3 separate regions of the Homo sapiens genome follow, and all the other regions are linked to region 3. The links come from fine-mapping of genetic effects on gene expression. A gene starts in region 3. Each other region holds a variant in brackets. All regions are shown on one strand. Distances are from middle to middle.

Evidence for each region. PIP is the estimated chance that this variant, and not a neighbour inherited with it, causes the effect.
Region 1: its variant is fine-mapped to the expression of DDX47 in whole blood (TOPMed, PIP 0.99).
Region 2: its variant is fine-mapped to the expression of DDX47 in whole blood (TOPMed, PIP 0.95).

The regions. Positions count from the first base shown.
Region 1 is chr12:12,775,002-12,785,897 of GRCh38, reverse strand. APOLD1 (apolipoprotein L domain containing 1) reads right to left here and starts at 239. Exons shown (of 2, transcript NM_030817.3): 1 at 204-239. The coding sequence starts at 206. The variant C/T (reference allele first, on the strand shown) is at 5,214.
Region 2 is chr12:12,834,470-12,845,365 of GRCh38, reverse strand. It overlaps the pseudogene RPL37AP9. Among named protein-coding and RNA genes, the nearest start is that of DDX47, 27 kb to the right of the region's middle. RefSeq lists an enhancer at 9,280-10,479. The variant T/A (reference allele first, on the strand shown) is at 5,134.
Region 3 is chr12:12,807,399-12,818,294 of GRCh38, reverse strand. DDX47 (DEAD-box helicase 47) reads right to left here and starts at 4,949. Exons shown (of 12, transcript NM_016355.4): 1 at 4,841-4,949; 2 at 4,071-4,164. The coding sequence starts at 4,927. RefSeq lists an enhancer at 4,813-5,122.

The sequences.
Region 1 (10,896 bases), 32 kb after region 3:
AAGAATTGCCTGCATCAGACATCAGATTCTAGAAGCAGCTGATTCTTCACAGAGCCCAGTCTAGAATCCTCATCTCCTTATTCACAGGACTTAATTTTACTTCCATGCTTCCATAATCCAACCCACCAGGGATAATTTTCCAGGTGAAAAGAGAAAATGAGAAAAAGTCATCCCGAATATATGCCTCAGGGTTCCCCACTTACCATTCACTTCTGTCTGCCTCCAGGAAAGTAAAATCTGAGGCTGTTTCTGGATGAGTGTGCTTTATAGTTCCAGAGAACCAATGGCTGCCCTGGGAAAGCCTTGTCTCATTCTGAGAATTTGCCATTTCCTGTCATGACCCCTGCTGCCTTCATCTAGAAGGACGTGACATGGTGGAAAATGACCTGCCAGCACAGCACATCCCGTATTTAGGAAACGAACATTGTGTGTTCGCTTTCCCCTGAACGCAGGAAGAGAACCACAGGCTCTTCCCTAACTTGAAACAAGTGTGTTGTCATTCTCCCAGTGGGATACCCTGCCTTTCCTGAGAATAGCTAATGACGCGATAGAGAAGGCCTTCAAACGCACCCCAGGCTGACCAATTATAGTGTTTCTTGAGGCCACCATTACAAAATCATATTTTAAAAGAAAAGGGAGGGGGTGGAAAACCCTCATATCTGACATAGCCGCTCATACTCCACTGCTGTATTTTTAAAAGCGTTGTGAATCTGTGAGTGGCTGGAGCCTGGGATCATTTGGCATGCAGCGGGTACCCTGCAGTCCTAAGAATGCAAGGCCACACCCACAGGAAGTGCTGCGTGCAGTTTTGGGCATCTCCAGCTGTGGAGAAGACATTGGCGGTCTCAGAAAGGGCACACTCCAGGTCACATGCATCAGAAAAATCAGTGGGGTCAGGCTGCATGAGGAGCTAATTGTACACTTTCAACCACAATAGGGCATTGGCTTCCCAGGTTTTCATTTGAAGTAGCAATTGTAGCCCATGTGATAGGGAAATGAGTGGATTCTGTCTACAGGGTCATGAGGCATGGGCTGAAGGGCAATTATTTTGATAATTCAGCACAGAAAAGTGAATGTAGCTTCTGTGGACTTGCTGCAGACCAGACCAGATGGAACATAGATATCTCTGGGGCATTCAGAGGTGGTTGGAGCTCAGCCTAGGAATTCAGTCCTACTACATGTCCCCAAATCCATCCATCGTCCTTCTAACCCTCTCCTCCAGATAAGGAGGGCCAAATTCGTTTCTCACTTGAATAAGGATTATCTCAACTCTCTGGCTTACCTGGAAAGCCTTAACAGCCGTATCATTCTGGAACATGATTAAATCCCCCACCTTTATGACTATACTTTGTATTTATCAACACAGTATAACAACAGTAGCAACAGAAAGGACAACCATAGTCCTTTCAAACTTGATTATTCTAGATTTGGTCCACTTCCAAATATTCTTGTTACAGCTCCTCAAAGGATAGCTGTAACCTCAATCTAGATGCCTCCAGTGTGTCCTTTTGAGGTTAGAAGTGGAAGAATATCCTCCTCTATCTCCATAGACATGGTCACTCCAAATGGGATGTGGGCCAGCGCGAATTGGGGAGGTAGACAAGAGGGAACATACCACTGATTCTTCAGCTGACACATGTTCCTCTAACTTCCCTGGACATCATCCTGTGTGTTTTGGGTTTAGAGGAACACAATTAAATCTTTATTTTATAGATGAGGAATATTGCTGGGATACAGGGTCTTCCTCAGAGCATCAATATCATAGTACAGAGGTGGGATGAAGAACCAGAAGGTAGAGGAAAATAGACAGCGTGTATACTGACCTCAGCCCATATCTTGGAATTTGTTTTTCTCTGTGTTGAAAGCCCATTTTCTTTGTATTTGCCTCTTTATGGAGGCAAAAAAAATTGAGTTAATTGACAGTTTGGGCTAAAGTTTTACTGCCCATAAAAACCTGGTACTTTGGCCAGTCATGGTGGCCCATGCCTATAATCCCAGCACTTTGGGAGGCAGAGGAGGGAGGGTCGCTTGAAGTCAGGAGTTCGAGACCAGCCTGGTTGACATAATGAGACCCCATCTTTACAAAAAATTTAAAAATTGGCCGGGCATAGTGACTCACACCTGTAGTCCTAGCTATTCAGGACGCTGAGGCAGGAGGATCACTTGCACCCAGGAGGTCAAGGCTGCAGTGAGCTATAATGGTACCACTGCAACACAGCCTGGATGATAGAGACCTTGTCTCAAAAAAAAAGCAAAAAAAAAAAAAACAAAAAAAAACCAACTGGGGCCGGGTGCAGTGGCTCACCCCTGTAATCCCAGCACTTTGGGAGGCTAAGGCTGGTGGATCACCTGAGGTCAGGAGTTCGAGACCAGCCTGACCAACATGGTAAGACCCCGTCTCTACTAAAAATACAAAAAAAACAGCTGTGTGTGGTGGCGTGCTCCTGTAGTCCCAGCTACTCAGGAGACTGAGGCAGGAGGATCACTTGAACCTGGGAGGCAGCAGTTGCAGTGAGCCGAGATCACACCGCTGCACTCCAGCCTGGGTAACGGAGTAAAACTCTGTCTCCAAAAACAAACAAACAAACAAACAAAAAACCCAACTGGTACTTCACCTTGTTTATAAGAACTGACACTTGAACTTAGCGATTCAATTCAGCATTTGTTTACTTTTATTTATTTATTTATTTTTGAGACGGCGTCTCAGTCTGTCGCCCAGGCTAGAGTACAGTGGCATGATCTCAGCTCACTGCAATCTCCGCCTCCCAGATTCAAGCAATTCTCCTGCCTCAGCCTCCCGAGAAGCTGGGATTACAGGCGTGCACCACTACACCTGGCTAATTTTTGTATTTTTAGTAGAGACGGGGTTTCGCCATGTTGGACAGGCTGGTCTCGAACTCCTGACCCCGGGTGATCCACCTGCCCCAGCCTCCCAAAGTGCTGGGATTACAGGCATGAGCCACCATGCCCAGCCAGCATTTGTTTAATTTCATATAGTAAAGACACAATAACAAATTTTAGGAACAAATGAAGGCATTTTGTTCAAAAGTTCTGTGTGGTCAGTTTCCACAAAAAAAAATCTGTGGACCACATCCTCAGACTTCTCTTTTAAATTGTTTGTTGGGCACTTCCAACACATCACCCTAGAGAGACTACACTGAAAATGGTAGTTGGCCTTCAAACTAGCCTTCAGATCTGTTCAACTCTTTTTTTGTTTTGTTTTGTTTTGTTGAGGCAGGGTCTCACTCTGTCACTCAAGTGGGAGTGCAATGGCACCATCACGCCTCACCGCAGCCTTGACCTCCTGAGATCAAGCAATCCTCCTGCCTTATTTTTTGACTTTTTGTAGAGACAAGTTGTCACTGTGTTAAACTCTTGATGCAGCTGAACCGCGGCATTAGCTGTACTAGTTTGAATTCTGAGTCCTCGAACCATGAGGAAATTCAGTGTAGGAAGGACGAGAAAGAGCTTTTTAAGCATAGGAATCTTCAGGCCCCAGCCCTGGAGAGTCTAATTCAAGAGGTCTGGAGTGGGATCTGGGAGAATACAGGTGATTCCTACCTGCAGCCAGGTTTGTGAACCACTGCTCTAGGAACTGGTAGTGTTTGTTTGTTTGTTTGTTTGTTTGTTTGTTTGTTTGAGACGGAGTCTTGCTCTGTTGCCCAGGCTGGAGTGCAGTGGTGCGATCTCGGCTCACTGCAGCCTCCGCCTTCCAGGTTCAAACGATTCTCCTGCCTCAGCCTCCCAAGTAGCTGGGATTACAGGCACGCACCACCATGCCCAGCTAATTTTTGTATCTTTAGTATAGATGGGGTTTCACATTGTTGGCCAAACTGGTCTCAAACTCCTGACCTCAGGTGATCTGCCCACCTCGGCCTCCCAAAGTGCTAGGATTACAGGCGTGAGCCACCATGGCCAGCCAGAACTGGTAGTTTTCTGACCACCAGTTACATGGCAGCAGAAACAGTAAGTCTAGCGGAAAGGACTATGTTAGGAGGTGTTTATACAGTTATCAACAACCCATTTGCTTTAGGCCCCTACTTAAAACTATTACATTTTAAAGATAAAGTATGCCGGGCGCGGTGGCTCACGCCTGTAATCCCAGCACTTTGGGAGGCCGAGGCAGGCAGATCATGAGGTCAGGAGGTCGAGACCATTCTGGCTAACATGGTGAAACCCCGTCTCTACCAAAAATACAAAAAATTAGCCGGGCATGGTGGCAGGCGCCTGTAGTCCCAGCTATTCGGGAGGCTGAGGCAGGAGAATGGCGTGAACTCGGGAGGTGGAGCTTGCAGTGAGCAGAGATCATGCCACTGCACTCCAGCCTGGGCGACAGAGCGAGACTCCGTCTCAAAAAAAAAAAAAAAAAAAGATAAAGTGATAATTACGCTCAAGGCCTTTCAGAGGACTGGGCCACCTCCATTTTTTGAGACTCTCAGTTATTTTATTTTTTATTTTTTTGAGACGGAGTTTCGCTCTTGTTGCCTAGGCAATGACGCGATCTCAGCCTACTGCAACCTCCGCCTCCCAGGTTCAAGCAATTCTCCTGTCTCAGCCTCCCAAGTAGCTGGGATTACAAGTGCCTGCCACCACCCCTGGCTAATTTTTTGTATTTTTAGTAGAGACGGGGTTTCATCATGTTGGCCAGGCTGGTCTTGAACTCCTGACCTCAGGTGATCCACACGCCTCGGCCTCCCAAAGTGCTGGAATTATAGGTGTGAGCCACAGTGCCTAGCCTCTCAGTTGATTTTTAAAAATGAAGAAATTCTATAATGGAATATAAAAAATTGTGGCTTATTTCTTTTAATTGCAATGTAATATATCTTATGTCAGTATTTTGCTATTCACAATATAGTCACAGGATTTATAAAATATTAATTCATAGTGCACCAAGTGGAAAAGTGGCACAAGTTTAAAGTTATGTGATGATGACTTTTTCCTTTTAATACTTAACTGTATATCTCAGTGACTAAATATAGGACCTCTTTTGGAGACATCAAAAATATAAAATTCAGGCCGGGCATGGTGACCCTGCAATCCCAGCACTTTGGGAGGCTGAGGTGGAAGAATCACTTGAGCCCAGGAATACAATACCAGCCTGGGCAACATGGCAAAACCCCATCTCTACAAAAACTACAAAAATTAGCTGTGTGTGGTGGCCTGTGCCTGCAGTCCCAGCTACTGGGAAGGTGGAGGTGGGAGGATCGCTTGAG[C/T]CCCGGAGGCAGAGGTTGCAGTGAGCCAAGATTGCTCCACTGCACTCCAGCCTGGGTGGCAGAGCCAGACTCTGTATCAAAATAAATAAATAAATAAAATTGAAATAAAAAATAAAATTGAGACAACTTGTAAATGTGAGGTTTAGTCCAAAGGTCTTGCAGACTTTCCTTTGTCATCTGTTCTAATATGTACATTCACCAAAATAAAAATAAATTCGGCCAGGCACAGTGGCTTATGCCTGTAATCCCAGCACTTCGGGAGGCTGAGGCAGGCGCCTCGGTGGTGTGTGCCTGTAGTCCCAGCTACTTGGTACTTGGGAGGCTAAGCTGGGAGGATGGTTTGAGCCTGGGAGGTGAGGCTGCAGTGAGCCGAGATCACACCACTGCACTCCAGCCTGGGCAATAGAGCCAGACATTGTCTCAAAAAAAAAAAAAGCAAATTAAAATAATAACACATATTCACCTGAGGATTTTTGCCCATGATTTCTTTGAATTTCCCCAGAATGTAAGTGCTCTAGAACATAGTCAAGCTCTCATAGTTGCTTGTTGAATTTAACTAAAGAAAAATGCTTTGTTCACTTAAAGAAATATCATTATTTTATAACAATTTTATAAGAATTTAACATAAAATTTTCTCTTGGACTATACAGCTTGGTATAACTTAGAATACTTATTCTGCAGAAGACCTCTAGGATATCTATATTGCATGGAATCTCAAGTATTATTGTCAAAAATTCATGGAACTGCACAGGAAAATAAAGACTCAACAAGTACTGCACTCCAGCCATTTTCATTCCTCCAAATTAGCCTCCAATCTTTGTTAATGTACACACACATCCTTAATCACTAGTGTTTAAACACTAGCCTGTGTTCTTTTTTCTACTTAACGTTCCTGCAGATAGATACACACTTGTCTATGTTGACATAGTCCTCACCTCTGTCATTTTTTAATAGCTATGTAATAATCCCATTGTTTGCTTAGTCATTTCCCTGTTAGACACTTGGATTGCTTCCAGGTTTTTCACTGTTATAACTAGAGTTGCCAGGACATCTGTGTACATTTTTTTTCCTTTGGATTATTTCTTTGAGGAGTATTCACAAACGGGAAAATACCAAGTCAAGGAGAATGACCATCTTCATCGTTTTTGTTATATAGTGCTATATTGCTTTCCAGAAGAACCCATTTATAATGCCACCAGCTTTTGTAAGAATAGAGGCAGAAGGCTTTCAGAATTTGCTTATATTAATGTTTAATTTGTTCGATTTCAGCTCCACTAATGTGTATTGAACACCTACTGTGTGCCAGACATCAGGCTAGAGTCTGGGGACCAAAAGCTAAATAAGATATAGTCCCTGCCCTCCAGGAGACGGCAAATCTATTGGAAGAGAAAAAGACAGAATATATCATTTAAATTTAAGGTGGGGAAGTGCCGGGGTGTGTGCTGGTACCAAGAAAGCACAGGGCAAATACATGCCCAGGAAGTACTAGGGAAGACTTTCTGGGAGCACTGATATTGAGCTGAATCTTGAGAGTCAAACAGAAGTTATTTGGACAAAAATTAGGAGAGAGAGGAGGGCAGTCTGGACAAAGGAACAGAATGGACAAAGGAATGGAGGAGTGTCCAGGGTGTTTAGTGTTGCTGAACATAAAGTGGGAAGCAGGGAAGGCCAAAGGATGAGGCTTAAGGGGTAGGTAGAAGACAAGTCATGACAGCTTTCCAGTGCCATGTGGGAAAGAGGGAGCCATTGAAGGCTTTCATCTGTGGCCTTACAAGGTTAATTTGACATTGTTGTGTGACAGTTGTGTGAAGGATGGTTCTCAGAGGTACACAACTAAAGCCAGGAGACAGTTAGAAGGTTATTGAAGTAGTTGACAGAGATTATCTCAGATTTGGCTAATGTTGGTAGGATGCAATGGAGTGGATAAAGTACAGAATATGTTTTGGAAGCAAAATTGACTAATCATTCCTAAGGCTGCTCAGACAGGGTAGCCATCACATCCACTGGCATTCTATTGGCCAATCAAGTTGTGGCCAACCCAACATTAAAGGGGTAGGAGCTAGGCACACTGGCTGGCTCCTGTAATCCCAGCACTTTGGGGGGCCGAGGCAGGAGGATTGCTTGAGCCCAGGAGTTTGAGATCAGCCTGGGCAACACAGTGAGAACCCATCTCTATAAAAAAAAAAAGAAATTAAAAATTAGCCACACGAGGAGGTGTGCACCTGTAGTTTCAGCTACTTGGGAGGCTGAGGTGGGAGGAGTGCTTGAGCCTAGGAGGGCGAGGCTGCAGTGAGCCATGGTCACACCATTGCACTCCAGCCTGGGCAACAGACTGAGACCCTGTCTCAAAAATGTAAAATAAAATAAGCAAAAAGATAGAGAGGTATATGCCTCCCACAGGGAGAAGCAAGCAGAAGAAATGTAAACCATCAGATCATTGTCAGGATGCTTTCCTGGCCAAGTACAGTGGCTCACACCTGTAATCCCAGCACTTTGGGAGTCCAAGGCTGGCGGACTGCTTGAGCTCAGTTTAAGACCAGCCTGGGGAACATGGCAAAACCTTGTCTCCACAAAAAAATAAAAAATAAAAAAAATAGCCAGGTGTGGTTGTGCACCCCTGTGGTCCCAGCTATTCAGGAGCCTGAGGTGGGAGGATCGCTTCAGCCCCAGGAGGCAGAGGTTGCAGTGAGCCGAGACTGCACCACTGCATTCCAGCCTGGGTGATAGAGTGAGACCCTGTCTCAAAAAACAACAACAACAAAAAAAAAAAAAAAAAAAAAAAAAAAAAAAAAAAACACCTTTCCTTGTAGAGAAGATATTTCCAGGTGAACTGTGACACCATCATCCACCTCCTATACCCTCTTCCTCTTCAGTTTGTTCTTTGGAATTGCCGTCTCCATCTGGATACACAGGTTGAGACGTTGAATTTCCCTAATGCAAAAATCTGAAATCTGAAATGCTGCAGTGAGCATTTCCTTTGAGCGTCACACTGGTGCTCAGTAAGTTTTGGATTTTAGAGTGATGCTCAAAGGAAATGCTCACTGGAACATTTCGGATTTCAGATTTTTTAATTAGGGATGCTCAATTGGTAAACATATAATGCAAATATTCTAAAATCCTGCCAAAATTGAAATCCAAATCACTTCTAGTCCCAAACCTTTTGGTTAAGGAATACTCAACTTGTAGTAAAAATCTCGCTCTGGCTAATATAAGCGAATTATTGCTATGAGACTGAGGGAACACATACTTGAACATGGGAAAGGACCATGGAGTTCTAAAGAACCAAGAAACTGAAAGGACATCAGTCGTTTTGTAATTGGAACAGCCTGTGTGATGAAACTGACCAACCACTCTTTCCTTTTGTCCTTGTATCAGTTTAAGAATCAAAGTTCCAGGAGTGACCACTGGGTTGGCTGAGCTTAGGTCAAGTGCCCATCTACTGTCTGCACTGGGCAGGGAGAAGAGGGGTGAATGGCCTTCAGCTTTCAAGTGGGAGATGGTAAAAGAACTTGACCTTCCCACCCACATTACATATATACTCAGGGAGAAGTTTCACACTAGGAAATTACAATGGGATTGCTATGTCAGGGAAAGGGAAACTGATGGTTAGATAAAACTAAAAAGAAAATATCCACAATAAACATTTTAGCCTAATTTGACCCACCTGGAGTTTATTATATACAGTGCATAGCGGGTGCTAATTCTTCTTCAGATGAATATAATTTTGATCATTTTTTATTTAAAAAATACACTTTTCTATAGATGTGTTATTGCTGGCTAGTCTTATATTGATTTGTTACCATTGTTAATATCTACTTCTAGGAAATCTATTCCACTAAACAGTTTACCTGTTTTTAATTCAATATAATATGATTTTGAATGTTACTGCTTCATAATCCGATTTTTTATTTTTAAAGGGAGACTCAACCTTCATTGCTTTTTGCTGAGGGAAAAAGGCATGTATCTTTGCTAATCTTACTTGCTTTTCTTTTGGACATATCTGATGCTGGGAACTCTTTAACTGTCCCAGGCTTCCTAATGTGTGCAGTTTAAAGTTTGCTCCGCTTCCTCCTCCACAGGTGTGCGCACCTGCACAGAACACCTGGGATCCTGTGGGTGAAACCTACACTATATCATTAATATAGAATCGTTTGCCCCATGGGCCCTATTACGAAATATCTAGTTTACCACATGCCTTTTCTTCTGGTGCCAGAAAGACTGCAGCTGAGTCCACATCCCTCCAGTAGCCATAAAGATTCTCTTATCTTCCAGGATACTGGGAAACAATTACCTTTGTCTGGCCCTTTCTCAGGCTTAGTCATTATCTTCCGAGTTCTCAGACATCTACAACAGTATTGCAGCCTGGATTATAACACCTGCTTGTTTTGTATCTACAGAGGCATCATAAATCTTAAGCTTTCCCTTAGCTTTTAGACTATTTGAATGGTTTAATTTGTAATATGCCTGTTATAGGTGAGAGAATGTTGGATACTTGTTTTCTTTTCTAACTTTGTTTAAAGTCTATTTTTAGTAGAATTCAGTCGGTTCACATTAAGCAATATGATGAAGCAAGGGGTGTATCTTCTAACACCCTGAAAGTTGGTCATTATTATTCTCCTTATTTGCTTTTATTAATTTAGTTTTGTTTGTTTGTTGTGTTTTTTTTTTTTTTTTTTTTTTTGAGACTGGGTCTCACCCTGTCACCCAAGCTGGAGTGCAGTGGCATGATCATAGCTCACTGTAACTTTGAACTCCTAGGCTCAAGCAATCCTCTCACCTCAGCCTCCTGGGTAGCTGGGACTGCAGGTGCACACCCCCACACCCAGCTAATTAAAGAAAGAAAATTTTGTAGTAATGAAGTCTCACTATGTTGCCTAAGCTGGTCATGAACTCCTGGTCTCAAGCAATCCTCTCGCCTTGGTCTCCAAAAGTGCTGGGATTACAGGCATAAGCCATTGTACCCAATCGTTTTTTAAAAAATGTAGTTTCTATGGTGAGTTTTCAACTCTATTTGCTCTTGAATTAGGTAAGAAAATGATTTTATGTAATCTATTTTCCTCTCCAAACTTGCTTTGTTAGACTATTTTTTAGAGCAGTTTTAGATTTGCAACAAAATTGAGTGGAACATACAGAGACACCCCGTGCTCCCTGCCCTCACACATGCATAACTTCTCCCATTATTGCCAGTGCCCACAGAGCAGTACCTATGTTACAATTCATGAACCTACATTGGCCCAAAGTCTGCAGTTTACATTAGGGTTCCTTATTGGTATTGTACGCTCTGTGGGTTTGAAAAATGTTTAATGACATGTATCCACCATTACTGTCTCATACAGAGTAGTTTACCTGCCCTGGAAATCCTCTGCACCTCGCCTGTTCATCCCTCCCTCCCTCCTAACCCCTGGCAACCACTGATCTTTGATCACTGTCTTCATAGTTTTATCTTTTCCAGAATGTCATTAGTTGGAATCACAGCATGTAGCCTTTTCAGATTGGCTTCTTTCATTTACAGACATGCACTTAAATTTCCTCCACATCTTTTCGTGACTTGATAGCTCATCTCTCTTTGGCACTGAATAATGTCCCATTGTCTGGATATGCCACCATTTATTCACTCAGCTACTGAAGAACATCTTGGTTGCTTCTGATGTTTGGCAATCACAAATAAAGCTGTGGTAAGCAT
Region 2 (10,896 bases), 27 kb before region 3:
TCAAGTTTGTTTTGGGAACTTGAGTAAAATACTTTATTTAATGCATGAAAGCTATACTGATGTTTTAATTGGATGCTGTCCAATATCCAGGTATTATCAGACATCAAAATTCTGCCAAGAATGTGGTTGTAATTTTTTGTTTTTACAACTTGGTAATCATAGTTAGTAAAGATAAAACGAGGCTGGGCATGGTGGCACACGCCTGTTATCCCAGCACTTTGGGAGGCCAATGCAGGTGGATCACCTGAAGTCAGGAGTTCACGACCACCCTGACTAACATGATGGAACCCCATCTCTACTAAATACAAAAAAATTAGCCGGGCATGGTGGTGCATCCCTATAATCCGAGCTACTTGGGAGGCTGAGACAGGAGAATTGCTTGTGCCTGGGAGGCAGAGGTTGCAGTGAGCCGAGAACACACCATTGCACTCCAGCCTGAGCAACAAGAGTGAAACTCCGTCTCAAAAAAAAAAAAAACCATCAAATTTGAGTGAACTCAGATTTAAAGAAAGCTATTATGTAATCATATTATTTAAAAATATAACATTAGTGGATCTTATAAACAGTACTTGTTTGAAGTTTTTTGTATAATTCAGAATGAAAAATCTTTTGTGTATGAAAAATATTTTGTTTATAAAAAAAAATTTTTTTTTTTTTTGAGACGGAGTCTCACTCTGTCGCCCAGGCTGGAATGCAGTGGCATGATCTCCGCTCACTGCAAGCTCCACCTCCCGGGTTCACGCCATTCTCCTGCCTCAGCCTCCCGAGTAGCTAGGACTACAGGCACCCGCCACCATGCCTGGCTAATTTTTTGTATTTTTAGTAGAGATGGGGTTTCACCATGTTAGTCAGGATGGTCTCGATCTCCTGACCTCATGATCCTCCCGTCTCGGCCTCCCAAAGTGCTGGGATTACAGGCGTGAGCCATCGTGCCTGGCCTTATAAAAAAATTTTTACACAAACCTTTCAGAAAATAGAGAATGGGCTGGGTGCAGTGGCTCATGCCTGTAATCCCTACACTTTGGGAAGCCAAGGCAGGAGGATCACTTGAGCCCAGGAGTTCAAGACCAGCCTGGACAACATGGTGAAACCCTCTCTCTTAAAAAAAAAAATGCAAAAATTAGCCAAGTATGGTGGTGCACAGCTGTGGTCCCAGCAACTTGGGAGTCTGAAGTGGGAGGATCACTTGAGTCTGGGGAATTGGAGGCTGCAGTGGACTGTGATCTTGCCACTGCACTCCAGCCTGGGTGATAGAGCAAGACTCTGTCTCAAAAAAAGGAAAGGCCGGGCGCGTTGGCTCATGCCTTTAATCTTAGCACTTTGGGAAGCTGAGGCGGGTGGATCACCTGAGGTCAGGGGTTCGAGACCAGCCTGGCCAAAATGGTGAAACCCTGTCTCTACTAAAAATACAAAAATTAGCCGGGCATGGTGGTGGGCACCTGTAATCCCAGCTACTCAGGAGGCTGAGGCAGGAGAATCACTTGAACCTGAGGGGCGGAGGTTGCAGTAAGCCAAGATCAAGTCACTTTATTCTAGCCTGGGCAAAAAGTAGAGAATGAGGAAACTTTTTTTTTTTTTTTTTTTTTTTTTTGAGACGGAGTTTCACTCTTGTTGCCCAGGTTGGAGTGAAATGGTGCGATCTTGGCTCACCACAACCTCCGCCTCCCAGGTTCAAGCGATTCTCCTGCGTCAACCTCCCAAGTAGCTGGGACTACACTACAGGCATGAGCCACCACACCTGGCTAATTTTGTATTTTTAGTAGAGACAGGTTTTCTCCATGTTGGTCAGGCTGGTCTCAAACTCCTGACCTCAGGTGATCCACCCACCTCAGCATCCCAAAGTGCTGGGGTTACAGGCGTGAGCCACTGCGCCCAGCCGAGGAAACACTTCTTAATTCATTTTATAAGGCCAGCATAACCCTGATACCAAATCTTGCCAAAGACATTACCAAAAAAGAAAAGTATAGACAAATTATGATATATCCATGTAATGGAATACTACTGAGCAATAAAAAGGAATGAACTATTGAAACACACAACATGGATGAAACTCAAAATAATTATCCCAAGTGAAAGAGGTCAGATTTTAAACAGAATACACTGTATTTAGCCAGGTGCTGTGGCATGCATCTGTATTCCCAGCTGCTTGGGAGGCTGAGGCAGGAAAATCGCTTAAGCCTGGGAGGCAGAGGTTGCAGTGAGCCGAGATCACACCATTGCACCTCAGCCTGGGTATCAGGAGTAAAACCCTGTCTTAAAAAACAAAAAAGAAATGATTCCATTTATACAAAACTCTAAAAATGCAAACTACTTTGCATATTGACAGAAAGCATATCAGTGGTTTCCTGGTGTCAGGCAGGGAGGAGGAAGCAAGGAAAGGCAGGAGGGAGGGATGACAAGGAGCATGAGGAAACTTTGGGGATGATGGATGTGTTCATTATCTTCATCGTGGTCACAGCTTCATGGATGTATATATATGTCAAAACCTATCAAATCCAGTATGTGTATGGGTTTTTTTTTTTTTTTGAGACAGGGTCTTGCTATTTTGGCCAGGCTAGTCTCGAACCCCTGGCCTCAAGCGATCCGCCTGCCTCAGCTTCCCAAAGTACTGGGATTACAGGTATGAGCCACCACACCCAGCCATGTTTTTGATACCTCAGTAAATCTGCTGTGGGGAGGAGACAAGGAGAGAGAGAGAGAAAGAAAGAAAGAAAGAGAGAAGTCAGCAAGAGAGAAGGAAAGAGAGAGACAGAGAAGGGTGAGGGAGAGAGAGAGAGATTTTCCATGGGAAAAAATTTCCACAGTGAAGAATAGCTAAAATCAAAAAGCCTGACAACACCAAATATTGGAAAGGCTGGAAGCAACTGAAACTCTCTTACCTGCTGGCCCTGGCATGTCCCAAGCACAGAAGGGAAAGCTGGAACATTTTGAGAAACACACTCCAAAGTGCAGGGATTCCTGAGGAGCAGGCCTGGGGAAGGGTCTCACTTGCCCAGGTCTAAAGTTGGTGCTGTTCAGGGGCTATGGGAGGTGGTGTTCCCCACTTTTCCTCCCGCAGAACTCCCTCACAATAGAAGGGGGTTGGGACCCAAGTCAGGCCCCAAAGCAGCACTTGCCCACTCCACACTCAGGCCGTAACCGCACATTCTGATCAGCATGAGAGGACCACTCCAATTTCCTAACATTTCTAACGAATGCAAAACACTTGACCTTAAAGTTGACCTGTGCAGGCTTATTTGGGGTAAATAGAAGGTTTCTATTAGGCTCTGGAAACAGTGAAAATAGCTCACACACCTATAAACTCTCAAGGAACTGGAGAATCATCCTGGTTTGAAACCAGAATTTGAAGGCCCCACTCAGTTTGAACGTGGGAGATGGAGGTTGCAGTGAGCCAAGATTGAACCACTGCACTCCAGCCTGGGCAACACAGTGAGACTTCACCTCAAAAAAAGAAAAAAAAAAAAAAAAAGGCTGGGCTTGGTAGCTCACACCTGTAATCCCAGTGCTTTGGGAGGCCAAGGTGGATGGATCATGAGGTCAAGAGATCGAGACCAGCCTGGCCGACATGGTGAAACCCCATCTCTACTAAAACTACAAAAATTAGCTGGGCGTGGTGGCGCACACCTGTAATCCCAGCTACTCAGTAGGCTGAGGCAGGAGAATCGCTTGAACCGAGGAGGTGGAGGTTACAGGGAGCCAAGATCACGCCACTGCATACCAACCTGGTGACAGAGTGAGACTCTGTCTCAAAACAAACAAACAAAAAAAAGTTGGGCTGGGCACGGTCCCTCACGCCTGTAATCCCAGCACTTTGGGAGGCCAAGGCAGGCGGGTCATGAGATCAGGAGATCGAGACCATCCTGGCCAACATGATAAAACCCCGTCTCTACTAAAATACAAAAAATTAGCTGGGCGTGGTGGTGCACTCCTGTAATTCCAGCTACTCAGGTGGCTGAGGCTGGGGAATCGCTTGAACCCGGGAGGCAGAGATTGTAGTGAGCTGAGATCACACCACTGCACTCCAGCCTAGGGATAGAGCAGGTCTACATCTCAAAAAAAATTTTTAAAAAGTTAATTTCATAATGAAACATAAAATAATGCTTTTAAAGACTATTGCGGGCTCAAACCTTCGCGCTGACATGGCTAAATGCACCAATAAAGTTGGAATTGTCAGTAAATACAGGATCCGCTATAGTTAGTTAATTTCATAATGAAAAGTTAATTTCATAATGAAACATAAAATAACGCTTTTAAAGATTATTGCGGGCTCAAAACTTTGCACTGACATGGCTAAATGCACCAATAAAGTTGGAATTGTCGGTAAATACAGGATCCGCTATGGTGCCTCCTTCCAGAAAATGGTGAAGAAAATTGAAACCGGCTAGCACGCCAAGTACAATTGCTCTTTCTGTGACAAAACCAAGATGAAAAGACGAGATATGGGGGTCGGGCACTGTGGTTCGTGCATGAAGACAGTAGCTGGTGGTGGCTGAACCTACAATACCACTTCTGCCGTCACAGCAAAGTCTACAGTCAGAAGACTGAAGGAATTGAAAGACCAGATGTTTCTCCACCATTGGAGACATCACTAGCCTTTAATAAATGGGTTAACTTATGTAATAATAAAAAAGGACCATTATCAGCATAATTCCCTAGGGCTATTGTCCTAAACTTACTTACTTTTTTTTCTTTGAGACCGAGTCTTGCTCTATTGCCCAGCCTGGACTGCAGTGGTGCCATCTCGGCTCACTGCAACCTTCACCTCCTGGGTTAAAGCGATTCTCGAGCCTCAGCCTCCAGAGTAGCTGGGAATACAGGTGCCCACCACCATGCCTGGCTAATTTTTGTATTTTTAGTAGAGATGAGGTTTCACCATGTTGGCCAGGCTGGCCAAACCTTCTTGATATGCATCCTATTCAACATAATATCTTTAACATACTTGCACATATGTTAAACAATTACATACATAATAAATATATACAAATATGCCATATCCATACATATTTATTATGAATTGTTTACAGCAAAACTTTACACTATAACACATAAAAAATATAAATTAGAAATGGATGGGTTAAATACAGATAAAGGTTCTAGTGTCTTCCACACCCCAACAGACCGCCTTGTAATATG[T/A]TGTCCCTGGATGCCCGTGCCCCAGGGCACGGAAACAACTTCTTTAGGCCATAGAGAAGAGAAATGAGCCCTGGCTGCAGGCCACTGGCCAAAGAGTGACTCAGGGACTCTGGAGAACACAGTAGGAGAAGGGGCAGGAAATGATTACATGGCTGAGTACCATAAAACCATGAAGTTTATGGACAGGCTGTAAATCTGAACATGACACCCTTCTCCCCTTTCCTCTCTCTCCCAGCAACCCGCCCAGGTGGGCCACTCTTCTGTCATTCCCACATAACCCTCTCAGTCAGAGACTTGTCCTTGTAGGGCCCTCTCGTCCCCTTCAAGGCTGCCCTTGGTGATCACACATAATTCTGAGTTCACCCAGACATAGATGCTGAAGAGGTGAGGTACAAAGTGTGACTTACCCACACGCCGCACTGACAATAGACCCTAGTGCCTGGTTAGGGGCATCACTGGCATTTATTAGGAAAATGAGTTAGGCTAGCCAGCCTTCTCTAAAGCATACTTCTGTCGCCTAACTACTCCCACTACTCTTCTCTTTTTTTTGAGATGGAGTCTCACTCTGTTGCCCAGCCTGGAGTGCAGCGGCATGATCTCGGTTCACTGCAACCTCCACCTCCTGGGTTCAAGTGATTCTTCTGCCTCAGTCTCCCGAGTAGTGGGATTAGCAGGCACGAGCCACCACACCCAGCTAATTTTTGTATTGTTAGTAGAGACGGGGTTTCACCATGTTGGCCATGCAGGTCTCGAATTCCTGACCTCAAATGATCTGCCCACCTCGGCCTCCCAAAGTGCTGGGATTATAGGCATGAGCCACTGCACCCAGCCCCCACTACTCTACTCAAAAAGGAGCCTTCAGTCTTCAAGACTGAAAAGCAGGGCCTGTTTTTTCTCAGGCAGATATTATGAACAAAATTCCACTGAACTTTTTTTTTAATTGAGGGAGTCTTTAGTGTCTGTCTTAAATGGCTAAGAGCTTGTGGGCACACTCTAAAACATATACAAACCTGTAAACATACACATACTTCCTTTAAGTATCTTCAAAGGAAAAATGAACAGATTCTGGTGATCACCAACATCCTCTCTGTCTTCACATGCTGATTTTATGTGAGGTTTCACGTGAATCTTCTGGCAGTCCAAAGGTCACTTTTATTTTCTGGAGATTTAGTAAAAAACACAAAACTATGGTGCTCAATTTCATTTTGTCAGCATAGGCTCACCCTGCAAAATTCCTGAATACCCTTGGATGAATTTAAGAAATCACGGAAGACAGAATAAAGAATAACTACGCTGCGCCGGGTGTGGTGGCTCACGCCTGTAATCCCAGCACTTTGGGAGGCCAAGGCAGGCGGATCGCCTGAGGTCGGGAGTTTGAGACCAGCCTGACCAACATGGAGAAAACCCGTGTCTACTAAAAATACAAAATTAGCCGGGCATGGTGGTGCATGCCTGTAATCCCAGCTACTTGGGAGGCTAAGGCAGGAGAATCCCTTGATCCTGGGAGGCAGAGGTTGCGGTGAGCCAAGATCACGTCATTGCACTCCAGCCTGGGCAACAAGAGCAAAACTCTGTCTCAAAAAAAAAAAAAAAAAAAAAGACTAGGCTGCAGTTTTAAAATATGACAAACAAGCTTTTCTGATCTGCAGTTTCCTCGAGAAATGACTCATGACCTCCAGTAAAAGAAATAATATATGCCAGTCACCTGGCAAACTCCTAACACACAGGAGGCTCTCCTCAGCCCTATTGTAAAGAATCACTTATTTACTATTTACCTTTTAGAGACAGGGTCTTACCCTGTCACCCAGGCTAGAACGCAGCAGCACAATCATAGCTTACTGCAATCTCATCCTCCAAGACTCAAATGATTGTCTTGTCTCAGCCTCCCAAGTAGCTAGGACCATAGGCGGGGTCCGCCATGCCCAGCTAATTTTTTATTATTTTTGTAGAGATGGGGTTCTGCTGTGTTACCCAGGCTGGTCTCAAACTCCTGGCCTCAAGCAATCCTCCCACCTTGGCCTCCCAAAGTGCTGGGATTATAGGCATGAGCCACCATGCCCTGTCCAAGAATCACTTATTTAAAACCAAACCAACAACCATTACAAATGTACAAATAGACGTATGTCAAATAAGAAATCTTTGGATAGTCCCCACTCTTGACCCACCCAGAAATCGCGACAGGGATGTTGGTTTTAAGTTGGCACTGGATTTAATAGCTTGGGTAAGAGAGTTTCTAAGATATCAGGAGTTACCAGTGGACTCCTCCCCCAAAAGAATGTGTGAGGACAAGAGCCAGCATCACATCAGTGAGAGCTGGCCCAGTATAAATGACCACCATGCTTGATTGCTGCTACTACTCTTTTGGACCCAGAAGGACAACTCCCCATCACTTTGGGCTGAAGGACATGTCTCTAGGATAAAATGAACGAACAAGCAGCTCACAGGTTACCCAGCACCAAGCTTATTTGATACAGGAGCACGGGCTGTGGACCAAGCCTACTGGATGGATACGCAGTGAGGAGAGAGGGAAGCAGTGAGGGGGGTCGGTGGCTCACAAACAACGTGTATTGGGATAGGCGGGGGAAAGAGTATTCCTGACTTACAGACTGGGGTAGGGGGTGGGGAAAGGAGCAAACAAAGCAAGTGGCTTCATCAACATCCCAGAGGGAAAGGCAGGCTTTGGAAAAGAACCAAGTGTTTGGAAGTTGACGAGGAGGGTCCACAGCCAGGGACCGCGCAGTAGAGACGACAGAGGAACGCGACCTTTTTTTCTAAGTGCATCTGAACTTGCCTTTACTTCGGGGCTCCCAGTCCCCATCCTCTGGGTCAACCTAGCAGATCTTCTTGAAGGCTGACACCCTTCACATACCTGTAGGTAGTTCTCCTCCCCACCCTGACCCCTGACCCCTAGTTCCAGTGGGACTGTCCTCCACTGTAGTCATACAAGGAGTCTGCCTCATCTGCCCCTGTGCCTCAGCCACAGCCCACTGTGAATCACTCGGCTCCAAATTAAAACTCCTTCCCTCTCCGGAGTGGTCTTTTCTTCCTTCTGCCATCTACTGGTGAAAACAAGAATGTCTTATTTTCTTACCTGCCTGTTGCCAATTTGAAAATAGCTTGGAACCTGAAAGTTCATTTGCATAGTACTTACTTGTTGTGTGGAACATACTGCATGAGTAATATGGAATTACACATATATACATACACACACACACACACATAACAAACAGTGTATTTAGTGTAAAGGGCAGAGGCTTGGAATCCAATTTGGCTTCAAATTTTTACTTAGCCCTTTACCAGCTGTATGATCTGGGTACGCTGCCAGTCTTCATCTATGCTAAAAGCCACAATTAATGATCATTATAATGACTAACACTTACTGATTGTTATCATGAGCCACAGTATAGTTCATTTAACTTCACAATGCTGTACTATAACTGTGTGTCTTCAGATAAGAAGGTTGAAACACAGGAAGGTTTAACAACTTGTCCAAAGTCTCACAGTTAGTCAGGGGCCGATTTGGCAAACTGGCTCCATAGCTCATATTGGGAACAATAATATCGACTGTTCGGGATTGTTCAAAGAACTAGAAATAATACAGGTCAAGCCGCCTGACACATCTTAGGTTTCAGAAAATGACAGATATTGAACATTTACTGCGTATGGGCCCTGTATGATATTAGTAATATCCACAAATTAGGCGCGGTCCCTGCCTAGTAGGAAGCACAATCACTATACAATACTAAGGCTAAGTTCAGCAAAAATAGCATCTGACTCTTTTTTCAGTATTGGTTTCCTAGTATCTGGCACACTGGCTAGGATATGGTGGACACTGGAAGGGAAGGAGGAAAGAAACAGAATTTTAAAAACTAGGTTCGAGATTCTGTGAGGCAGGCCAGGTGTGGTGGCTCACACCTGTAATCCTAGAACTTTGGGAGGCCGAGGCAGATGGATCACCTGAGGTCGGGAGTTCGAGACCAGCCTGACAAACATGGCACCCTGCCTCTATTAAAAATACAAAAATTAGCCCGGCATGGTGGCACATGCCTGTAATTCCAGCTACTTGGGAGGCTGAGGTGGGAGAATTGCTTGAATCTGGGAGGTGGAGGTTGCAGTGAGCCAAGATTGCACCATTGCACTTCAGCCTGGGTGACAGAGACTCCATCTCAAAAAAAAAAAAAAAAAAGATTCTGTGACAGAGATAGGCTTGACGGTCTTCTTTCCATATTAACAAATGAGAAAACTCAAGGTTCAGAGAGGTTTAGTAACTCCCACAAGGTCACACAGCAACAGTGAACAGTCCGATGACTTACACTTTCCCCACCTGTTCCTTTCCCAATTCCTCCTGCTCCTTCCGGCCTCTTTGACGGCACTGGCAGATGATTGAAGGGTGACAGTGACAGGAGACATCCTTTGTGTTTGGATGGTATAAGGGGATGGATGGCTACGAGCAAACAAAAGCTCCAAGACTCTGAGCAGACCTTGGGGCCCACCTCCTAGAGACTGCATGGTTCCAGAGGAGCCCATTTTCTTCCTGTCTCCTTTCCACTTGGCACCAATCAGCTCTTCACTTCAGGTGAGACTGTTCAGTGCTATTTCCCAGACTTCAAGTTTCTGCAGTTATTTTTAGCGGTAGTTTTAGTGCATACCTGGGATAGGTGAGGCATGAAAAGGAATGCGGGTGTGGGTAACCCTTCAATCTCTAGAGTTATGGTCTGAGTCTCTTGTCATTCCAGCTAAAGAGGGGTGACTCACACCCTGATTTCTTACCTGCCCAGAGGCTAGATTTCACCCTAAGAACCATGTGGATTAGAATGTCTTGTATATTCTCTTAGTTTTAAGGACACAGTTTCTTGATGTTGCTTTGTTACCCACTTTTGATAACTTGGATCCTTTCATTTTCTGTAACCAACACCACAGCCTGTGGTTCTTTCTGGTCCTATTTCCCAGGGTTTTGAGGGACCCAAGGTAGATAAAGTCTCCAATTTAGGTTTGTGGATGCCTCTGCAGGCAGAAAGCTACTTGGAAAACACTCTGTCTGTAAGCAAGATGTCCTTAAAGAGCCAGCCAAGTTCTGGGATATTCATTGCATTTTTTGAGAGACTGAGAAAGAATAATCATGATCTAGTTGGTCTAGGCCCCTCTTAGCAACTACAATCCCCTCAGAGTGCCCTCAGAGAACCTGCTTCATGGTTCCCTGGAATTCTGGGCCTGCTTTAAGCCTGAAATAGCCTATCCAACTGAAACCCTCTCACTAGGATCCTAGGACCCCTTCATAAGATAGAGAGGTGTTTTCCTCATTCTCACCCTCACTCAGCTCTGTACAGAGGAAGTAAAACTAGGCTAGCCAGTACCATGAAGCCATTGTTACTGCAACTGCATACAATGAATACTATATAAATCAGTTTTATAATTCAGATGAGAAATAAGAAGACATTTTCTCTGGGCTGATATCATATGACTATTCCAAGATACTCCCTTTATTAAGTCATAAAAGTTAGATGTATCTGTTTACAATTAGGGTGGGAGAAGATTGTTTTGAAGCTCACAGTTTCTTTTTTTTTTTTTTTGAGATGGAGTCTCGCTCTGTCGCCCACGCTGGAGTGCAGTGGTGCGATCTCGGCTTACCGCAAGCTCTGCCTTCCGGGTTCACGCCATTCTCCTGCCTCAGCCTCCCCAGCAGCTGGGACTACAGGCGCCCGCCAACACGCCTGGCTAATTTTTTTGTATTTTTAGTAGAGACAGGGTTTCACCGTGTTAGCC
Region 3 (10,896 bases):
CCGCCTCGGCCTCCCAAAATGCTAGGATTACAGGCGTGAGCCACCACGCCCAGCCAATGGACTGATTTTTTTAAAGATTACAGACAAATGACAATCCAGGGATAAAATGTCTCACTCATCTACTTATTTTAATGTTCCCAGTGGCAGGGTAGGTAACAATGAATTGCAACAGCATCTACCTATCTGAGAAATAAAGGTCAGTGCAAGCAAATGATTCCCAAAGCTTTTTATTCCTCAACTCCTTGGGGATACTGCCGTCCCAGCCTGTGTAACACAATACACCTTCGGGAACAGCAGGCGGGGGAACTAGGATTTGTCCTTTTTTTGTCAAGGGAAATCTTAACATTTCAGAAGAAAGGAGTACATAAGAAAGATTTAGGGAAGTAAAGGAGCTGAAGTCGCTTAGTTCATGAAGCAATAAGCACTGCTCACTGCCTACAGCTGAGGCCTGCACTGCTTTCAGTTTTTTAGTAAGTCCCTCACAGCAACCCTCAGTTTGTGAAACTGATATATTTTTCTACGTCATCTCCTTTCTTCATCTCTGAAGAAACCGCTAAGCCTTTTCAGTGTTTATACCTGTAGAGAATATACCAGAATGCATAAACTCCATAAGAGCAGAATAGATTTTGTCATATAGACCTGCCACATTGCTGGCACCGAACATAAGCGCTTGCTATATGGCAGCCACTAATAAATTGTTTGAAATTCCTTGAGGACAACTTTAAGTGATCTCTGAAACAGACATAAATAGATGGTGTCTCAATGTGTTACCCAGGCAGGTCTCAAACTCCTGGTCTCAAGCAATCCTCCCACCTCAGCCTCCCAAAGTCCTCGGATTACAAGCATGAACCACCATGCCCATCAAACAACTTTTGATCTCTTGATAGTAACAAACTTTGATGCAGGTCCATTAATAGAGGTTTTTTGAGCTATAAGATTCTATGTTCAAATTCAGGCTCTAGCAATAATTAGTTAGGTGACCTTAGCCAAAGGACTTAACTCCCTGAGTCTCAATTTCCTCACTAATAAAATAATTATCCGTAACTACCATTCAGCATTGTTATAAGGTTTAAGAACAGCGGACAATCTGGGCTCAGTAACTTTGCAGAAACTGAAAACGTCAGTAGTCCCAAATTCAAATTTAGAAGTTATTTTCACCGAATAACAACAGCAACAAAAACAAACAGATTATTTGAATCATTTCTATAGATTCAAATGAAGCATTTATAAACTATTCATTAGAATGAGACAAACCCAAGAATAAGGATAAAGACATTTCTATGGTGATCATTTCTGTCAGTTCCTAGTAATCTTCCACTGACCCCTCCCTATTCTTTTCTGCATCAAATTTAAACTTATGGCTGAAAACATCAGAATAATTTTAGGATTACTGCCAGCTATTTTGACTCCTTCTCACCTACACTGTAGGGCAAGCTGGAAAAGTTAAAATGCATGAACGCTTCTTGCTATTTAAAAGTAACACTGGGCCGCTGATAGTTCTTTCCCACCACTGGCCTTTATACGGTCCTTATCCTCCAAACTTCTCTGCACAAGTTTGAAGTGTTTACTAATCCCTCCTTGAAACAGTTTCCCTTCCCTAATTTGTGTGAAACTATACTCTCATGATTTTCAACCCTCTATTGAATCTTCCAATTTTCCTCTGTCATCTTTGCCAATCTAATCCATTTCCAATCTCAGCTATAACCGCTCTTTGGATACAGTGTGTATATCCAGCTCTGGCCTCTCAATCAAGTTCCAATCCCAGGATTCCAACTGGGTATTTTTTTCCTTTTTTATTGTCCCCCAGTTTTGTTAATTGACAAAAAATTATACTTATGGTATACAATGCAAAGTTTAGATACATGTATACTTTGTGAAGTGATTAAATCAAGCTCATTAACATATCTGTCACCTCACATACTTGTCATTTTTGTGGGGAGACCATTTAAGATCCACTCTCCTAGCAATTTTCAAATACACAAAACATTATTCACTGTAGTCACCATGCTATTCAATAGATCTTCAGAACTTATCCATCCTGGCTAACTGAAACCGTACCCTGAGCAACATTTCCCCATTCCCCTCCCACAAGGTCAACTCTATCTCATTGATATCCAAAATCAATTACTTCCAACTGAACTCATCTTTCCTGCATTTTTCCCCCGTTCCTTTTTTGTATCAGTGGTACACCAATAATATGCCCTAAACATACAGCCTAGAAACTTAGATTTTCCCCACCCCTTCCTTGCCTTCCACTTGCTTAACTGGTTGTAAAATCATAATGATTCTTTTTCCAACATTTTCTTTTTCATTCTACCACCACCCTACCCATTATTGATTGCAAAAATCATTACAAAGACCTACTAATTGGTTTCCCAGACTCAGTCTCTTGTTTCTAATGATCTTTCACAGCTATGAGATTAATCTTCCAAGAGTACAACTCTAAATCCTTCATCTCCAAAAATGCCCCACTGCCTATGAAACGAAGACCAAATTCCTTGACCCAGCACTCAAATCCTTCATAATCCGGCCCCAATCACCTTACTAAACTTTTTCACCACTCTGCTAAGTACTTGCAAATCTCCATACATGCCCATGTTTTCCAGTTGGCTTTTTTTCATGCTGTTCCCTATGCCTAGAAAGTCCTCCCCTCCCATCATATCTGAATGTCTAAATCCTTCTAAAGTCAGTGTTCAAGGTTCAGCTCACATGTCTTCCCAACCTCCCCAGCCAAAAATAAAATGAAATAAATCTTCTCTAATCCATCCTAATTAGAAGTAATCTCTTCTCCCTCAGTGCACTCTGAATGTAACTTTCTTAGGTCCCTGTTCAACTTGTAATAAATTTATAATTATCTCTTTAATAGATTATAGACTCTTGGAGAGGACAGACTGTTAACCTCCAGTGCCTTACATTTACAACAAATAGTAACTATTTATGGAAAGAGCAAATGGAATTTTGTAGAGTAAGTCTAACCCCTTTTCCACATGACAGCTCTTCAAATCATTAAATCTTTCAATTATTATCAATAATAATCACTACATTAATTACTAATGAGTAATAATTATAGCTTACATTAATCACTAATAATATAGTAATACAGTAATAGCTACATTAATACTAACAATAATTAGCCACATTACCCCTCTTATAACAATTGCTATGATTACATTCACTCTCTCTGAGGATCTTAATAGATTTCAGTTAACTAAGACCTCTGGGCCTCTTTTATCACCCACCCTAATCCTGTAAAGTTGGTACTTTAGGAATCTAAGAGCAGGACTTTACTTCTACTCCTATTAAAGTTCATCCTGTTACAGCCAGATGTGGTGGCTCACACCTGTAATCCCAGCACTTTGGGAGGCCAAGGCAGGTAGATCACTTGAGGTCAGGAGTTCGAGACCAGCCTGGCCAACATGCTGAAACCCCATCTCTACTAAAAATACAAAATTAGCCGGACATGGTGATGCGCCTGTAATCCATTACTTGGGAGGCTGAGGCGGGAGAGTTGCTTGAACCTGGAAGGCAGAGGTTGCAGTGAGCCAAGACCGCACCACTGCACTCCAGCCTGGGCGACAGAGCGAAACTCTATCTCAAAAAAAACTCCATCTTAAAAAAAAGATCTCAAAAAGAAAAAAGTTCATCCCATTAGTTTCAGTTCCAGTAGCCATCAATCTGCTTTAACCACTGTTTTACAAATCTGATAAACATGGCTCACAGCAAGAATTCTCAACTCCTCAAGACACACATATGTGTTCCAGGCATCCTTCCCTAAGTGTGCGCCCACTGATGCATAAAGTCTACCAAGATTGTCGTTAATATACTTTAACTTTAACCTAGGGCTTCCTTAAAGTCAGCATCTGTGGCAGAGAACAAACCCTTTCAGCTATTAAGACAGAAAGTAAGCTCAGTAAAATTGGAGAATGACATTTTCAAATACCATTACCCAAACTTTGTACCTTTAGTGACCATATCCTTATTTCACTTGAAGTATGCAAGCAACAGCTTTCAAAAGGGGTATCTAATTGAGATAACTTTATATTAAATCTGTACGAAGTCATACAACCTACCTTGTAAGGCCAAAGGAATAGCTTCAATCTGGATCTTGGTGGGTTTTGTCCATCCCAACTGGTCACAAGCTTCACACAACACATCTGTCACACCCTTGGAATTCAGAAAAATATACCTTAGCCAAGAACAGCACACCCCTACCTCCCTCCTACTTAACTGACTGTCAGACCCATCATGTACAACCATTGTATTTGATTTAAAAGGTATTTACTGTGCATCTCAGAGCCTACTCTTTAACTATACCATGAGACAGTAGCTCAAGACTTAACGAACACTTTCTGCTCACCAAGGCCAAGGCCAGGTGCTTTACATGTATCATCTCATTTAATCGTCACAACAATTCTGCGAGGTAAGTACTTATTACTATCCCCAATTTACAGATGTGGAAAGAGAAACACAGAGAGGTAACAACTTGTCCTCAGTAAGAGACTGTGTCAAAATTCAAATCTGGTTGGTTCATCTGACTCCAAAGCTCCAGTTATAAAGAGACCAATTCCATTCCCCATATGTACAACCTCCTGGATGCACATACAAACGTTGCCACACTAAAGTGGCGAATAGGGCAAATAGGGGGTCTCAGGGCCCAGCAGCCCTCCCACCACCCAAACTCAGAGCACGTCCGAAACCCAGCCCTCTGAAATTCTGGGGAAAACCCAAGCTAGGCCCCAAGATGCTTTTGTACACTATCAGAGCGGGATCTAAGGTACCTGGGGTCTCCCTGAGCCTAGCACCAGAGTACATAAAAGAAGCCAGCGTCATCCATTCTCACCAGGTCTTTAAATGTTTTAGTTTCCTCCTCTTCCACAATCGGCTGGGACGCTTCGGTCGGAGAATCGTGTTCCTCGGGTGCCGCCATCTTGTGTGAGGTCTCCGGAAGTGGGTCTGCGGCGCGCGGGATGCTGGGAAATGTAGTTTTAGTTCTCCCCGGACGACGTGCTCTGCGCGCCCCCTGCGGGCTTGCCGGGGATTGCACCCGTCCGCTAGGCAGGTGGGGCCCAGTGAATATGGGCGCGTAGGCTTGCGGAATAGATCCGAGTGCAGAAGGGGCTGATCACCAGGGACTCCAGTTGACCTTTAGGTCCCTTTTAAAGAGCCTTCCCTACGTGTGTCGCCAGTTATGTTCCCCGCTTTTCTAACCATAGAGTTTGGAACGGATTGATATTACAATACTATTTTTTTATTATGTCATTACTTTATTCAATAATGTTGAGAACCTACCATTTGCTAAGGCTATGCTAGATGGCTGGTGAATAGGACAGCGACCCCTGCCCTCGTGAAGAAAAAGAAGACAGATCATAAATAAGCTATCACAGAGCATTTCAAATTGTGAAAAGTAGCTGGGTGTGCTCACGCCTGTAACCCCAGCACTGTGGGAGGACGAGGCGGGCGGATCACTTGAGCCCAGGAGTTCGAGACCAGCCTGGGCAACGTGGCGAAACCCTGTGTCTGCAAAATGCAAAAATCAGTCAGGCATGCATGGTGGCATGCGCCTGTAATCCCAGCTATTCAGGGGGCTGAGGTTGAGGGATCAGTTGACCCCGGAAGTTGAGGCTGCAGTGAGTGGAGATGGTGCTACTGTACTCCAGCCTGGGCAACAGAGTGAAACCCTGTTCACATAAAAATTACAGAGTAACCTGGGGAGGGTGGGTTGTGGGGATAACTGTGAGATTGGGAAGGCCTCTCTGAGACAGTGATATTTGAGTTAAGACCTCACTGTTGAGCAGGAGAAAACGCTTTAAGATCCCAGGAGATAATCATTCCAGAGTGAGAGAATTCCAAGTACCAAGACTGTGAAGCTACTAAGGCTATTCTGGAAAGCAGCAAATTCAGAGCTGTATGTTGCATGCCCCATGGCCAGCGAGTGCCCTCCTGTGGCCTGTCACTTGGGTCTCACACTGCGCAGGGTGCTCGTTGCAGTTTTATTCCTGAGGATGGGAAGTTGGGGGCAATCTGGTGTCCGTCACTGGGAAAATGCATAGTTAAAATGTGAACATGGTGTCTACAAACATGCCCTTAACAATATGATTAGATCTGAAAAACCTAGTGCTTAGTGAGAAAAGCATAAAATATATCAAGTATATTAAAATATAGGCCCACAGATATCACATTCTGCTAAAACACATCCAACAGAAGATACACTTGAAATATTTTAGAATGGTTGCCTGCAGAGGGAGAAGAATTAGAATAAAACTGGGAATTGGGAATAAAAGAATTAAGTGTATAAGACAATAGGCCGGCCGCGGTGGCTCACACCTGTATCTTAGCACTTTGGGAGGCCAAGGCAGATGGATCACTTGAAGTCAAGAGTTCGAGACCAGCCTGGTCAACATAGTGAAATCCAGTCTCTACTAAAAACACAAAAATTAGCCAGGCATGGTGGCCTGTGCCTGTAATCCCAGCTACTCGGGGGGCTGGGGCAGGAGAATTGCTTGAACCCCGGAGGCGGAGGTTGCAGTGAGCTGAGATCATGCCATTGCACTCCAGCCTGAGTGACAGCGCAAGACTCCGTCTCAAAAAAAAAAAAAAAAGGATAATAAATACACAAAGCAAGAGAGGAGACTTGTGATGCCAGTGTGCTTGACCTGAGAATTGTGAGGAACTCAACTCAATGTGCCTGCCGACCTCCCCACCACCACAACTAAAAAAGGGCCCTGATTTAGGCATCACAGCAGTGTCTCAACAACAAAAAGGGTAGGATGTGGTCAGAGAATTGGGCTCAGCTCAGACTCTGCAGGACCCTGTTGTAAAAGGTCTGGGGTTTTGGATGTTATCCTAAATGCAGAAGGAAGCCACTGGGGGTTTAGAGCAGGGAAGAGACATGATCTACACATTTAAAATATTACTCTAACTCTATATGGAGATAGGCTGTAGAAAGAGTGAGAAAAGGAGACCATCTAAGACAGCGGTCCCCAACCTTTTTGGCACTAAGGACTGGTTTCGTGGAAGACATTTTTTGCACAGAATTGGGGCGGGGATGGTTTCAGGATGATTCAAGCACATTACATTTATTGTGCAGTTTATTTCTATTATTATTACATTGTAATATATAATGAAATAATTGTACAACTTGCCATAATGTGGAATCAGTGATAGCCCTGAGCTTGTTCTCCTGCAACTAGATGGTTCCATGTGGGGGTAATGGGAGACAGTGACAGATCACCAGGCATTAGATTCTCATAAGAACCACGCAACCTAGATCCCTTGCAATAGGGATTGTGCTCCCAAGCGAATCTAATGCCGCAGCTGATTTACCAGGAGGCGGAGCTCAGGTAGTAATGCTTGCTCACCTGCTACTCACCTCCTGCTGTGCAACTCAGCTCCTAACGGGCCACGGACTGGCACCAGTCCATGGCCCAGAGGCTGGGGACCCCTGATCTATGTTGGGAAAAGGGCTTGTGGGGTGCCTGCATAAACGGGCCATAAAAATATGGGACAATAAGTTGTGGCAAGTCACAAAAGGCCTCTGAGGAGGAAAGCCTTCTTATCGCCATTATGTTCCCATGCTCTGAGCGCAACCTGCTCTCTTATCTATAAACACTGTGTTCAAGGAGAAAGACACTCCTTTGAAGCATTGAAATGTGGACAGACGTTCAGGCTCCTAGTTAAGCCCACTCCCACTAGCTACTCTTCGATAAGTTAAAGATATGCTGTTTGAGAACAAAGGAGACTCATTTAAACAGCCATTGCTATAGATTACGCCTATGACATACTGCCTCCCTTTCACTGTTTCACCCTAAACATCTGCTTCTTAGATCTAAGGGATTGTACTCAATAAATAGAGTGAAGACCAGAACTCTGGGCCTTTTGCAGCCTCCATTTTGCAATTGGCCCCCCGGCCCCCACTCTTTATGCACTCTTAACCTGTCTCTTCTCATTCCTTTGTTGCCACCGGACTTTGGGTACCCTACGGGTGGTGTTGAGGCTGGTCCCCAACAATCTAAGAGACAAGGGATGATCTTCATACCCCTGGCTCTAAGCACAGGCCCTGGCAAGAAGTGGATGCTCTGGAAATGCTGCCTGGCTGAAGTAAAACAGCAAAGCATTGGGATCAGGAACCATAGCAGACCAGAGAGGACTTCACTCTTTGTTTTTTAGGGAGTGAGGTTTTTCCATATTTAAGATTACATTCCTGGCCGGGCACAGTGGCTCACACCTATAATCCCAGCACTTTGGGATGCCAAGGCAGGTGGATCATTTGAGGTCAGGAGTTCAAGACCAGCCTAGCCAACATGGTGAAATCCTGTCTCTACTAAAAATACAAAAATTAGCCAGGCATAATTGCGGACACCTGTAATCCCAGCTACTTTGGAGGCTGAGGTAGGAGAATAGCTTGAACCTGGGAGGCAGAGGTTGCAGTGAGTCGAGGTCGTGCCACTGCACACCAGCCTGGGCAACAGAGTGAGACTCTGTCTAAAATATATATTTTTTAATTTTATATATATATGTATATATATATATATATACACATATATATGTAGTAAAAAAAGATTACACTGCTGCAGAATAGGCTGGGGACTTTGGTCTTTTTACATTAGTTCACTCCAAGTTACAGGAAAGGAGAGAAAATACACACTGCATAAGACAACAGGTCACCCTGAAATTGATTCTATTGGGCAGTCACAGGCATACAATTATGCTAGCCCAGTCTAAGGCATTCCATCTCTCTATTTAGCCCTCCTCATGGCTACCATCTCATTCTCCTATGACTTGGAATTGGGCCACTCTAGATGGTCTCCAAAGTCAATACATATGCTTTGGGATAAGGGGAAGTCAACTTCTCCCAAAGAGAATCTACCCAGCTAAATTGGGCTCTTCCTCTTCCTCTTCTCTGTTACATAGACCGGCTGGGGAGTTTGTATTCCTCTTTTGACAGAGGAGGAACTCTAGTCCCAGAGAGTAAAGAGACACAAGAGTAAAGAAAGAGTAAAGATCACAAGAGACAAGAATAGAAGCCAAGCCTCTTAGACTGGGGGCAATGGTTCACACCTGTAATGCCAGCAATCTGGAAGGCTGAGGTAGATGGATCACCTGAGGTCAGGAGTTCAAGACCAGCCTGGTCATCATGGTGAAACCCCGTCTCTACTAAAAATACAAAAATTAGCTGGGTGTGGTATTGTGAGCCTGTAATCCCAGCTACTCGGGAGGCTGAAGCAGGAGAATTGCTTGAACCTGGGAGGTGGAGGTCGCAGCAAGCCGAGATCATGCCACTGCACTCCAGCCTGGGCAACAGAGCAAGACTCCGTCTCAAAAAGAAAAAAAAAAAAAGCCAAGTCTCTTGAGACCAGACCAAAACTTTTACCAAAGAGAGCATCATCTTACATAATCGAAAGCAGCTTTCTTCTTCAAAAGCAGCCACACAGACTTTTCTGTAAAAACAAAGAGAGAAAGCAGCTGCAGTATTTATTTTGCTTCCCCTTGACTCATCCTGTGATTGCATTTAGGAGAGTGGAATGGGAAAGAAGAGCTGAGAGGAGAGGATCCTGATTGGGGAGCAAGGGGAAGCAGAGATAAAAAGCCTGAAAAGGGGACTCAGATGGAAACAACTGGAAGGTCTATAAATTTGCATATCATATACCTTCTAAAGTTACCTGAGTTTTGTTCGAATGCGTTACAGAAAAGAAAAGGAATCACCCATAAGATGTCTGGGGGTGCCTGCTGCTTTAAAGAGAACCGATTTAAGCCTTTCAACTGCAGTTGTAACATCAAACCCTGTTGATTTTAGCCAAGCAAGTCTTTTCTGTTTGTTCTTGGATAATTCAGACACAGGCTGTTTTTAAAACTTCCTCTGGTGTCAGTGTCCCCAGGGTATCGAGGGCCGTGAAGAGGATGTGGCATGCAGTGACAGCAGCGTCAGCGCTGCTCAGTTCTTTAGTCTGTTCCTGCCAGCAAAGTTTGGGCCTTGGAACAGCACCTACCCCAGTGACCAGATTCATGTCAGACTGACAGGATGACCATAGGTGGGTTCCAAAGAGGAAAGCCTGCAGTAGCCGAGATGATTGTCTGCTTTTGACTATTCCTATCAGGTTGAAGCAGTTTGGATATTTATACTCTGGGAATGGAAATAATAGAGGTCCATTCTAGTCACTGAGCCACGTCATATCCTGTACTTTCAGAACAATGAGAAAGGTTAAAGAGGAAATCTAAATAAACACTCTAAATGATGAGGGAGGAAAAGCAAGCCCGAAACAATATATGGGCTCCAGAAGGAGAGGTCGAAGGGCCTGACCCCATCTTACTCAAAGGTTTTCATGAGCCCCAGACTCCTTTGCCTTCATGCACCTCTTCTTCCACAAAAAAGTATTAAAAATTATATTTTACAACTGCATTAGTATACAGATAAATATATTAATGTTATGTATTAAAACTTGTTCTCCGAGTTAACAAATTTTTTTTTTTTTTTTAGTTTTTAGAAACAGGCTCTCTCTGTTGCCCAGGCTGGAGTACAGTGAGTTCTGATTGTGCCACTGCAACCTTGAACTCCTGGACTCAAGTGATCCTCCCACCTCGGCCTCCCAAAGCACTGGGATTACAGGTGTGAGCCACCTGGCCCCCCCTCCTTTTTTTTTTTTTTTGAGATGAGGTCTCACTCTGTTGCCCAGGCTGGAGGACAGTGGCATGATCTCAGCTCATTGCAACCTTTGCCTCCCAAGTAGCTGGGACTACAGGCACGTGCCACCATGCCCAGCTAATTTTTGTACTTTTAGTAGAGGTGGGATTTCACCATGTTGGCCAGGGTAGTCTCAAGCTCCTGATCTCAAGTGATCCACCTGCTTCAGTCTCCCAAAGTGCTGGGATTACAGGCATAAGCCACCGCGCCCTGCCCTG